Linked DNA regions of Homo sapiens: region 2 is linked to region 1. Evidence: fine-mapped expression QTL. A gene starts in region 1. The other region holds a variant in brackets. All regions are shown on one strand. Distances are between the middles of the regions. Region 1 holds the start of FRS3 (fibroblast growth factor receptor substrate 3). Region 2 overlaps USP49 (ubiquitin specific peptidase 49).

Region 1 (5,373 bases):
GGTACCTTGAACTTGGTGGGGTGGTTGTCTGGAACGCTGTCTCTGTTCAGGCAGCTGCAGCAGCTCCCCATGGTGTCAGAGCAGCCAGCCTGCCCTAGGAAAAACATACAGGATATGCAGGTCACCAACTTCAGCTTCAAAAAACCCTGCTCTGGGGAACTTGGGCAGAAGCACGTCATTGTGATCACCTACTCTGTCCAAGAGACTGTGTGATACAGACCCCCCCTCAAAGACTTCACATTCTCAATCCAGGGCCAGACACACATTGGATAAACGTTAATTCAAGTTACAATGTGTTAAGGATGAATGCCGATGGGGGGCTGGAGAGAGCTTCTCAGAGGTAACATTTGATCTGGACCTTGAGAAGTATGTAGGATTCTGACCCATGTAATGACAAGGAAGGCAGGGACACAGGCAGGAAGAAAAGTAGGGGTCCAGGAGAAGTGATCTGCAGCAGATGGAGGTGGGTGCCAGCCCGAGCCCCTTATTTGGATTCAGCAAAGAAATTGTCACTTGGGGGTCTCAGACACTTTGGCCTGTGCCTGTCTCTTTTTTCCTCCCTTTTTACCTCATCCATTCCACTTCATCCAAGTTCTCTCTTCTCCCTTACTACCATCCCAACATCCAGTGCAAATTTATCTTTCTGATGTCCTCTTCAAATGAGTTGTTACATTGTGATCATAAAGATATATTCAGAAGACTGAACATTTAAAACAGTGCAGTTTTAATAACCTCAAGTGGATATTTCTTCATTTAAAAAAAATGCTGGGTTTCCTTCCCTTTTTCTGAAGGGGAGACCAGAGGCCTTACTATTTGGCTCTTCCCCTCCAGGATTCCAGTACTTGGATTATATGTCACAATAGTCAGGACTGTGCCTAGAATGAAGAGGACACCACCCAAGCTTGAATGACCTAAGGGAACAAGAAATGCATGGACCAATACCAAGCAGAAGTTTTAAGGGGTTGCAACTTGTCACAAGAAATAAGTCTGTAGGATTGGCTATCCTTCTAGAACTCCTGCTGAATGGTAAAGCTTTGAACAACCAGGTGACCTGTACCCTCTGTTCCTCCCAACTTGGGAAACGCCATAAAACTGACCCCTATACACAGCTCTTACCTCACCCAGGCCATCGGGGAGCTGACCGTGGGAGGGGCATGGGGAAGGGTTCCCACTTTATTCCCCCCGTCCTTGGTGGGCTGTCATGGCAAACAGTCTGCAGAGAAGTCACCCGGATCCCTCTGGGATACACCTGGGGCTCACCTAGCATAGGAAACAGAGACACTGATTAACAAAACCTTCTATCTTCACCCCCAACTGTTAATGAAAACTGACCTAACAGTCCATCCCACCTGGGTATCTGTTCCAGCCCTAATGGGACAAAAACACCAATGAAGAAAGTAAAATCAAGGGCAAAGGGAGCACAAATCCCAAGCCCCACGGGCCCTGAGAGGGACAGACACCAAGAACATCAATAAGTTTGAAGTCTAAGACGACCAAAGACCTTTTAAGTCACTTTAGATCTCCCTCTGAGTCCTGTTACAACAAACACCAAAACCATCACCTTACCTTTGCAGAGAACTTTAACTCTACAAAGAGCTTTCTCAAAAGGACACTGTGATATAGTAGAGACAGCACTGGTTTAAGACTCAGGAAACCAATATATCGGTCAGTTTTGTTGCTACTAAGTATCTGGGAGACTTAAGTCAACGCCCCCCCCAACTCCCACCTAAGGCCTTAGTTTTTGGGGGAACCATCTATAAACTGGGGAGCTTCTAGCTTAAATAACTTGCAGAGGTAAAAACGTAAGACAAACTTCACTAAAATTGACATGTTCATCTTCCAAGACAGGCTGCTTCAATTTCGCATTTGGAAGCTTGATAGATTTTCTGCTCCCCAAGCTCTGAAAGGCCTAATTTTAACATAAATGTTAACAGTAAGCCAAAATTTCAGGATATCTGAGCCCAAGGTAGACAAGTCAACAAGCCAGGACTCTGCAGACCCTGGACATCCCACATTCCTGCTCTGGAGAAACACTTCCCAGGGCCCCTTGCACCCTGCATCCTTGGACAACTTCCAGGTAAAAGGACCCCATCCCCTTGGTCTGGCTTATTTTCTGGAAGGAAGAAGCAGGCTCAGGGAGGTGTGCACAGACTAAAGATAGGTTGCTGGGAAAATACTGGGGCTTGAGCCACCGACGGGGGCACGGCGCGGGCACTGAAACGAAGAACTCTAGGGTGCAAGATGGGGGAGGGGCTGAATTTCCCTATCACCATCTCTTCTCCTTAAGATATCAGGATGTATCAGATAGCCCACTGAGGAGGGACTGCATTGAGTGGAAATGGGGAGAGGCCTCTGGTCTGGGATAGGTATGGATCAGGGGCAGGAGTGAGAGGGGGGTGTGGGGGCTGAAAACGTATGAGGACGTTTGGGGAAACATGAGCAAGAATTTTGGATGTGGGCATTTTGGATAGTGCAAGGAGAATGGGGATATGAGGGATCCTAGGAATTTCCGGGCAGTGGAAGCATTTGGGGGCATCCAAGAGAAATGGTGGGTCCGTGGGCATAGCAGGAGATTTGTTGAGTGAATGAGGGGGTTCTGAGGGCTCCAGGAGATGCGATGATGTGTCCAGGGCGGAGAGGGTAGAGGTGGGTTGGGGGAGCCAGAGGCTGCAGGACAGGCTACAGGACTGTCAAGGGGAATTTCTACATGCCCGTAAGGAATGAGGAGGTCTGGGTGCGCGCTGTCCCCGGATCCCCGCCCCCAGCCCCGGTGCTCCGCCGCCTGCCCGCCCGCCCGGGGCTTCCTAGGGAGGGAGTGGAGACTGCGGCGCGGCGCGGCGCGGCGCGGCGCGGCCTCGGTGAAGCCGCCTCGTCCCCGCCCCGCCGCGCCCCGACTCACATCGCCCCGCGGCCCGGGCGGCGCCGGGCCCCGCTCCCGGGTCCCGCTGCAGCAGCCGCCGCCCGCCCGGAGCTAAGGCCTCCCCGCCCCGCCCCGCCCCGCGGCCGCGGGGTCGGAGGTCACCGGCAGCACCAACGAGACGCTGCGGGCTGGCGGACCCGAGCGGGGGCGACCGGCACGCAGCCTAGAAGGTCCCTTTGGAGGACTTTGCAGTCGGGAGCAGTGAGCATGCGCAGACGCCAGAGGGCGCTCCTGGCCAGGGGCTGAGCAAGCCCGGAGGGGACAGGGCGGAGCCTGCGGCGGAGGCGGGGCGCGGAGGCGGGGCTGAGGACACCAAAGTTGGGGGTGGTCCGGGGAGCGGAAAGGGGACGGAGGGTTGGGCGAGAAACGAAGGGAAGGGGAGAGGGTCTGAAGGGACCTGAAAGGAGAAGGGCAAGACGATGGAACCTGGAAGAGGGTTGAGGGGAGGGGAAGGGGCCAGGGGGACCACTGGGGACAAGGGGGAGAGAACTGAAGGGAAACACGCGGAGGAGCGGGGCTGGGAGACCACAGGGAGAGTTTGGGGAGACCTGGGAACTGCGGAGAGACAGGGCTGCGGGCCCGGCGAGGCGTTTCCATTCAGCGAATGGTTGAAAACCCAGCGTAAACGCGGCTCCCGGCGTCTGCTGGATGCCTGCCGGGCGCAGTCCGAGCCAGAGAGCCCTTGCACCTGCATGGCAGAGGCCATGGAGCCCGCACATTTCCACCCTGAGATCCCATAAATGTGGTTTTGTTTTCCTTTTTTTTTTCCTCCCCCCAATCTGCAGCTCCAGGCCCCTCCCTGAGCCGCCCCTCTCCACCAGCCGGGGAGGGGCGGGCGGGGGCCGCTGGGGCGTGGGAGAGGAAGGGCCGCGCTATTAGGGCGGGCGGGGGCGGACGGGGGCGGGCGCTGAAGCCTTGGGGTGGGGACCGGGTGAGGGGCCTGACGGCAGAGTCGGTCCAGAACTGCCCGGACAGCGACGCACAGCGAGGGTGAGACCCCAGCGGAGTCCTGGTCCCCTCCCCTAAAATCCCAGCAGCCAGACCGGGAACCCCAGCGGACTCGGGAAACACCGCGTCCCAGCCCCGGAGGCGGGCCCGCCAAGTTCCAGAAAAACTCTGGGGATCTATCGAGAGGGCAGTTGGCGGGACTGGGCACTCCCCTTCCTTCTCCCTCCCACTGTCCCCAGAAATCTTCCCATCCCTCCACCTCCCCAAGCCCTAAGTCCTCTCGGGCTCTGCCCTTCAGGGCAGCGGGTGTTGGGGATGTCCAGCTCCTGAGCCCTCTTGCACGGAGGCTCTGCACGGAGGCAAGACAAGGGGTTCAGCTCTGTCCCTTATCTGAGGTGGGAGGGGGAAGGGAATTATGGAAGGAATCCAGCTGGCCTGTTAGTAAGGGTGTTCCAGTGCTAGGTGGAGGTGGAGTTTGGCTGCCTTTGGGGAGATTGGAAGGGTGAGGAATAGAGGCCTGATTTCTGAGTGTTGTTTCTGTGTTGGACAATTCTATGCAAACTAGAGCCAAAATGGAAGAGGGTGCAAGTCCCCTCCTGGGGCCCCAGACGCCCCCTCCTTTCTTGCTGCCTGGAGCAGGGGCAGTGCTGTTAGTGGCTACTCCTGGTGTGAACAGCCCATCCTGGCCACCTTCCACAGGAAACCTGACCTGAAGGACAGAAGAGGAAGGAAGCAGGTGGGTGTGAAGCCAGGAAGGAGGGAAGGGTGGCACAGGACATTTGAAGTGGGAGTGGAGGGGCGGTGCTGAGGAGGGTTCAGTGCTGGGAAGCAATATTAACTGTTACAGTCCAAACCCTCACCTCAACCCCAGTACGAATCCCTGGCCCAGTCTTAGAGGCCAGGGATTTGATGATGACCCTCCTGTGCCCAGCTACTTTCAGAATCTATCCCAGCTCTCAGAAGCCAGGTCCCCCTAAGGCTTCCCTTAGCCTCTGGTATGATCTTGGGCAAGTTAATTAACTTGTTTCAACTGTCAAGTGGAATGAAAGAGATTACCTCATAAGATTATTGTGAGGATGGACTATATTATGTAATATTCTAGAAGAGTCCTTGGCACAGAGTAAATATTATTAAAAAGTTTGCTCTGGTTATTTTTTTCTCCAGGGTTTTTGTATGTCTGTCCCGAGCTCTGATTGATCCCATTCTACCTGGTTTCATCTTTGTCTTACCCACTATGAGCTCCTTGAGGGCGGGGCTCATCTCTTCTCTACATTAATAGTCGCTTTTTTTTTTTTTTTTTTGAGACGGAGTCTCACTCTGTTGCCCAGGCTGGAGTGCAGTGGCATGATCTCAGCTCACTGCCACCTCTGCCTTCCAGGTAGGTTGGAGCGATTCTCCTGCCTCAGCCTCTGGAGTAGCTGGGATTACAGGCACACATTACCACGCCCAGCTTATTTTTGTATTTGTAGTAGAGATGGGGTTTCCCCATGTTGGCCAGGATGGTC
Region 2 (5,373 bases), 30 kb after region 1:
GGCTTGCAATTGATATTTCAACTCTAGATTCATTCATTTTCAACTCCAAATTGGTTCCTTTGAAAGTTAAAAAAAGGCACATTTGGTATAAAGGCAGAGAGTTACAGGACAGTTAAATTACTTAAAAAGGAAGACTCTTACGGAAGGGTTAGCACAAATTTGAAACTTTATGGTGTTTCACATACCAGTGGGAGAGATGAAGAAACTCAAATAAAAAGTCAATTTTAGGTCGATTGCAATGTTTTTCAAAGCAGAGATAACATGATATAAGATAGAAATAAGAGAAAGAAAGTCCTCACCAGTACAAAGTATCATTTTTATGAGACGTGACTAAGGAACATTGTATATGTGGTTTTGTTTTGAGACGGGGTCACTCTGTCGCCCAGGCTGGAGTGCAGTGGCGGGATATCAGCTCATTGCAACCTCCACCTCCCGGGCTCAAGCGATTCTCCCACTTCAGCCTCCCGAGTATCTGGGATTACTGACGCCACGCCACCACACCCGGCTAATTTTTGTATTTTTAGTAGAGACGGGGTTTCAACATGTTGGCCAGGTTGGTCTCGAACTCCTGACCTCAGGTGATCTGCCCACCTCGGCATTCCAAAGTGCTGGGAATACAGGCATGAGCCACCGTGCACAGCCGTATATGTGTTTTTTAATTTATTTTTTGTTTTTTATGTATTTTTTTTTTTGAGGTCGAGCCTCCCTCTGTCACCCAGGATGGAGTGTAGTGGTGCAGTCTCAGCTCACTGCAACTTCTGCCTCCCTGGTTCAAGCGATTCTCCTGCCTCAGCCTCCCAGGAAGCTGGGATTACAGGTGCGCGCACCACCACACCCGGCTAATTTTTTTGTATTTTTAGTAGAGACGAGATTTAACCATGTTGGCCAGGCTGGTCTCGAACTACTGACCTAAATGATCTGCCCGCCTCAGCCTCCTAAAGTGCTGGGAATACAGGCACGAGCCACTGCGCCCAGCCAACATCCGTCTTTTTGAAAAGAACATCTGCATCTTGCAGTAAGGGTGGGAAAACTTTTACCTTCTTTACTGAAAGGAAAGGTAAGTAAAGAACTGGACAAATCTGACTTAGGACAAGAGGTGAAGTGGCTACTGGTATAATATTTAACCAAACTACCGAAACAAAAGAAAAAAAAGCAACGAATCTTCCAGCTGATATATATGAAAATGCTTTTTAAAACAGTAGAACATCCTAAGCATGTTTTTTTTTCCCCCTCCCAATAATGCTTCTTCAATTCAATAATCAGAGAAGCCTTGTGGGCAATTTCTCCAAGGGAAAGAAGCTATACAACTTTTTTTTTTTTTTTTTTTTTGAGATGGAGTCTCGCTCTGTCACCAGGCTGGAGTACAGTGGCGTGGTCTCAGCTCACTGCAACCTCCACCTCCCGGGTTCAAGCGATTCTCCTGCCTCAGCCTCCCGAGTAGCTGGGACTAAAGGCGTGCGCCACCACGCCCAGCTAATTTTTTTGTATTTTTAGTAGAGACAGGGTTTCACCATGTTGACCAGGATGGTCCCGATCTCTTGACCTCGTGATCCGCCCACCTCAGCCTCCCAAAGTGCTGCGATTATAGGTGTGAGCCAACACGCCAGGCTGCTATACAACTATTTTAAAAGAAAACTTTTATATCTTTGGAACTTTGAAAGGCGTTTTCCCCTCAATACCAGAACTTAAAATTCCTTAGGCTGGGCACCGTGGCTTGCACACTTCGGGAGGCTGAGGTGGAAGGATTGAGGTCAGGAGTTCAAGACCAGCCTAGCCAACATAGACCTGTCCTATCTAATCTATCTATCTATTTACTTATATATTTATATATTTTGAGAGAGGGTCTCTCTGTCACCCAGCCTGGAGTGCGGTGGTGTGATCTTGGCTCACTGCAGCCACCACTTCCTGGGTTCAAGTGATCCTCCCACCTCAGCCTCTAGAGTAGATGAGATCATAGGTGCATGCCACTATGCCCAGCTAATTTTATTTTTTGTAGATATGGGGATCTCACTATGTTGCCCAGGCTGGTCTTAAACTTCTGGGCACAGTGATCCTCCTGCCTTGGCCTCCCAAAGTGTTAGGATTATAGGTGTGAGCCACCACACCTGGCCTAGTCTCTTTAAAATTAAAAAAAAAAAAAAGGCCAGGTGCGGTGGCTCATGCCTGTAATCCCAATACTTTGGGAGGCCGAGGCAGGTGGATCACCTAAGGTCAGGAGCTCGAGACCAGACTGACCAACATGGTGAAACCCCATCTCTACTAAAAAAATAAAAAAATTAGCCAGACGTGGTGGCAGGCGCCTGTAATCCCAGCTACTCAGGAGGCTGAGGCAGGCGAATCGCTAGAACCTAGGAGGTGGAGGTTGCAGTGAGCCAAGATCGCGCCATTGCATTCCAGCCTGGAGGACAGAGCAAGACTCCGTCTCAAAAAGAAAATAATAAAATAGGCCGGGTACGGTGGCTCACACCTGTAATCCTAGCACTTTGGGAGTCCGAGGCGGGAGGATCACAAGGTCAGGAGATCGAGACCATCCTGCCTAACGCGGTGAAACCCCAACTCTACTAAAAATACAAAAAATTAGCCAGGCGTGGTGGTGGGCGCCTGTGGTCCCAACCTACTCAGGAGGCTGAGGCAGGAGAATGGCGTGAACCCGGGAGGTGGAACTTGCAGTGAGCCGAGATTGCGCCACGGCACTCCAGCCTGGGTGACAGAGCGAGACTCCGTCTCAAAAAATAAATAGATAAATAAAAATTAAAAAATAAAGAAAATAGGCCGGGCGCGGTGGCTCACGCCTGTAATCCCAGCATTTTGGGAGGCCGAGGAGGGCAGATCACGAGGTCAG[A/G]GGATCGAGACCATCCTGGCTAACACGGTGAAACCCTGTCTCTACTAAAAAATACAAAAAATTAGCCGGGCGCGGTGGCGGGTGCCTTTAGTCCCAGCTGCTCCGGAGGCTGAGGCAGGGGAATGGCGCGAACCCGGGAGGCGGAGCTTGCAGTGAGCCGAGATCGCGCCACTGCACTTCAGCCTGGGCGACAGAGCAAGACTCCGTCTCAAAAAATAAATAAATAAAAATAAAAAAATAAAGAAAATAATAAAATAGGCCGGGTGCAGTGGCTCACGCCTGTAATCCCAACATTTTGGGAGACCGAGGCAGGCGGATCACCTGAGGTCAGGAGTTCGAGACCAGCCTAGCCAACATGGTGAAACCCCGTCTCTACTAAAAAAAAAAACACAAAAAAAATTAGCCAGGTGTGGTGGCAGGCGCCTGTAATCCCAGCTATTCGGGAAGCTGAGGCAGAAGAATTGCTTGAACCTGGAGGTGGAAGTTGCAGTGAGCCAAGATTGTGCCATCGCACTCCAGCCTGGGGGACAAGAGCGAGACTTCGTCTCCAAAAAATAAAAAATAAATAAAAAATAAATAAATAATTCAATTCCCTAAAGATAGTTCCTCTTTTTTTTTTTTTTGAGACAGAGCCTCACTCTGTTGCCCAGGCTGGAGTGCACTGGCATGATCTTGGCTCAGTGCAACCTCCATCTCCCAGGTTCAAGCAATCCTCCTGCCTCAGCCTCCCTAGTAGCTGGGATTACAGGCAAGGGCCACCACACCCAGCTAATTTTTGTATTTTTAGTAGATATGGGGTTTCACCATGTTGGCCAGGCTGGTCTTGAACTCCTGACCTCAGGTGATCCTGAGGTCAGGTGACCCGCCTCAGCCTCCCAAAGTGCTGGGATTATAGGTGTGAGCCACCGTGCCCGGCCGGTAGTTCCTCTTTCAAGGTGAATTTCTTTCACCTCCATTTATTCTCTACTTTTCATTTCTGTGAGCAAATGCAGTTTCATGATTATGAGGTCAACCCAGAGAAGTTCTAAATCCAATGTACTGTGAGTAGCCCCTTTAATTTTCCAGATGCCGTTTTTGGCCTAGTCCTATTTATGTGTGCCAAAACCCACAAATAAATAAATATACTGCAGGACCAAATTAGAGATTCTTCCCTTTTTTATTGCCTGTTCCAGATGGCAGAGGCATGTCTTTATATAAGAAACCCTCAAATCATACAAAGGGAAGCGACCTAGACTACTCTCAATCAAGCCAGATCATGATTTTCTCATTGCTAAGCACCCTTTACATCATTTTTCTGGATGTGTTTGCCCACTTTCTAACAAGATATACAGTAGCCTCCCTTTATACATGGTTTCACTTTCTGAGGTTTCGGTCACCTGTGGTGCAGTACAGTAAGATACTCCAAGAGACCACATTCACATAATTTTTATTACAGTATATTGTTGTAATTGTTCTATTGTATTATGTTATTATTACTGTGCCTCATTTAAAAACTAAACTTTATAGGTATGTATGTACAGGAAAAAAACATAGTATATATAGGGTTCGATACTATCTGTGGTTTCAGGCATCCACTGGGGGTCTTGAAACATATCCCCTAAGGATAAGGGGGGAATACTGTAATCTTCTTCAGAGAGGAGATTATGTATATTTCTGTTTTTACCCCCTTATAATGCCAAGACTTGTGGGTGCTCAACTCTTAGTGGTCAAAAGTATTCTGTCAGAATTACCCTCTCACACAGTCTGGAATAGTATTGAAATAACCATTTTTGTTGATTTTTCTTAGTGCACAGCCAAATCAAAACACACATACATTAAAAGATGGAATAGTAAATAAATGAATTTTCTTCTTGCTACTTAGTACCAACTAAGGGTACAAATTGGGTACACATTGATGCTTACAACTAATTCCTGGGACACAAAAGAAAGTAATGAAGGAATGAAGGGGAGGGAAAAATATCAAGATGCAGACAATTCCTGTTTCTCACTCTCACTAATTCAATATTCTTTGAAAATGTAGTCCCTGAACTACCTACCAACATCTGAATTCCCCAGGCTACTTGTTATATATACAGATTTCCTGGTTACTACTCCAGTCCTGATGAATCTGAACCTGGAGAGGCTTCTAAAATCTCAATGATTCTTTTTTTTTTTTCAGACGGAGTTTCGCTCTTGTTGCCCAGGCTAGAGTTCAGTGGCGCAATCTAGGCTCACCACAATCTCCGCCTCCCGAGTTCAAGCGATTCTCCTGTCTCAGCCTCACAAATAGCTGGGATTATAGGCATGCGCCACCACGCCCGGCTAATTTTGTATTTTTAGTAGAGACGGGGTTTCTCCATATTGGTCAGGCTGGTCTTGAACTCCCGACCTCAGGTGATCCGCCTACCTCGGCCTCCCAAAGTGCTGGGATTACAGGCATGAGCCACTGCGCCCGGCCAGATGATTTTTTTGCACATTAAAACTTTAGTACAGGCCGGGCGCAGTGCTCACGCCTGCAATCGCAGCACTTTGGGAGGCCGAGACGGGCGGAT

The links. PIP is the estimated chance that this variant, and not a neighbour inherited with it, causes the effect. A credible set is the group of variants that fine-mapping cannot tell apart.
Region 2: its variant is the best candidate, but not a certain one, in a credible set for the expression of FRS3 in blood mononuclear cells (TOPMed, PIP 0.73).

Annotation. Positions count from the first base shown.
Region 1 is chr6:41,776,917-41,782,289 of GRCh38, forward strand. It overlaps FRS3 (fibroblast growth factor receptor substrate 3), which reads right to left and starts at 2,984. Exons shown (of 7, transcript NM_006653.5): 1 at 2,900-2,984; 2 at 1,117-1,260; 3 at 6-94. The coding sequence starts at 71. PRICKLE4 (prickle planar cell polarity protein 4) reads left to right here and starts at 3,866. Exons shown (of 8, transcript NM_013397.6): 1 at 3,866-3,910; 2 at 4,434-4,604. RefSeq lists silencers at 2,710-2,859, 2,890-3,299, 3,580-3,649.
Region 2 is chr6:41,807,100-41,812,472 of GRCh38, forward strand. The region is part of intron 3 of USP49 (ubiquitin specific peptidase 49); the gene reads right to left. Among named protein-coding and RNA genes, the nearest start is that of TOMM6, 22 kb to the left of the region's middle. The variant A/G (reference allele first, on the strand shown) is at 2,843.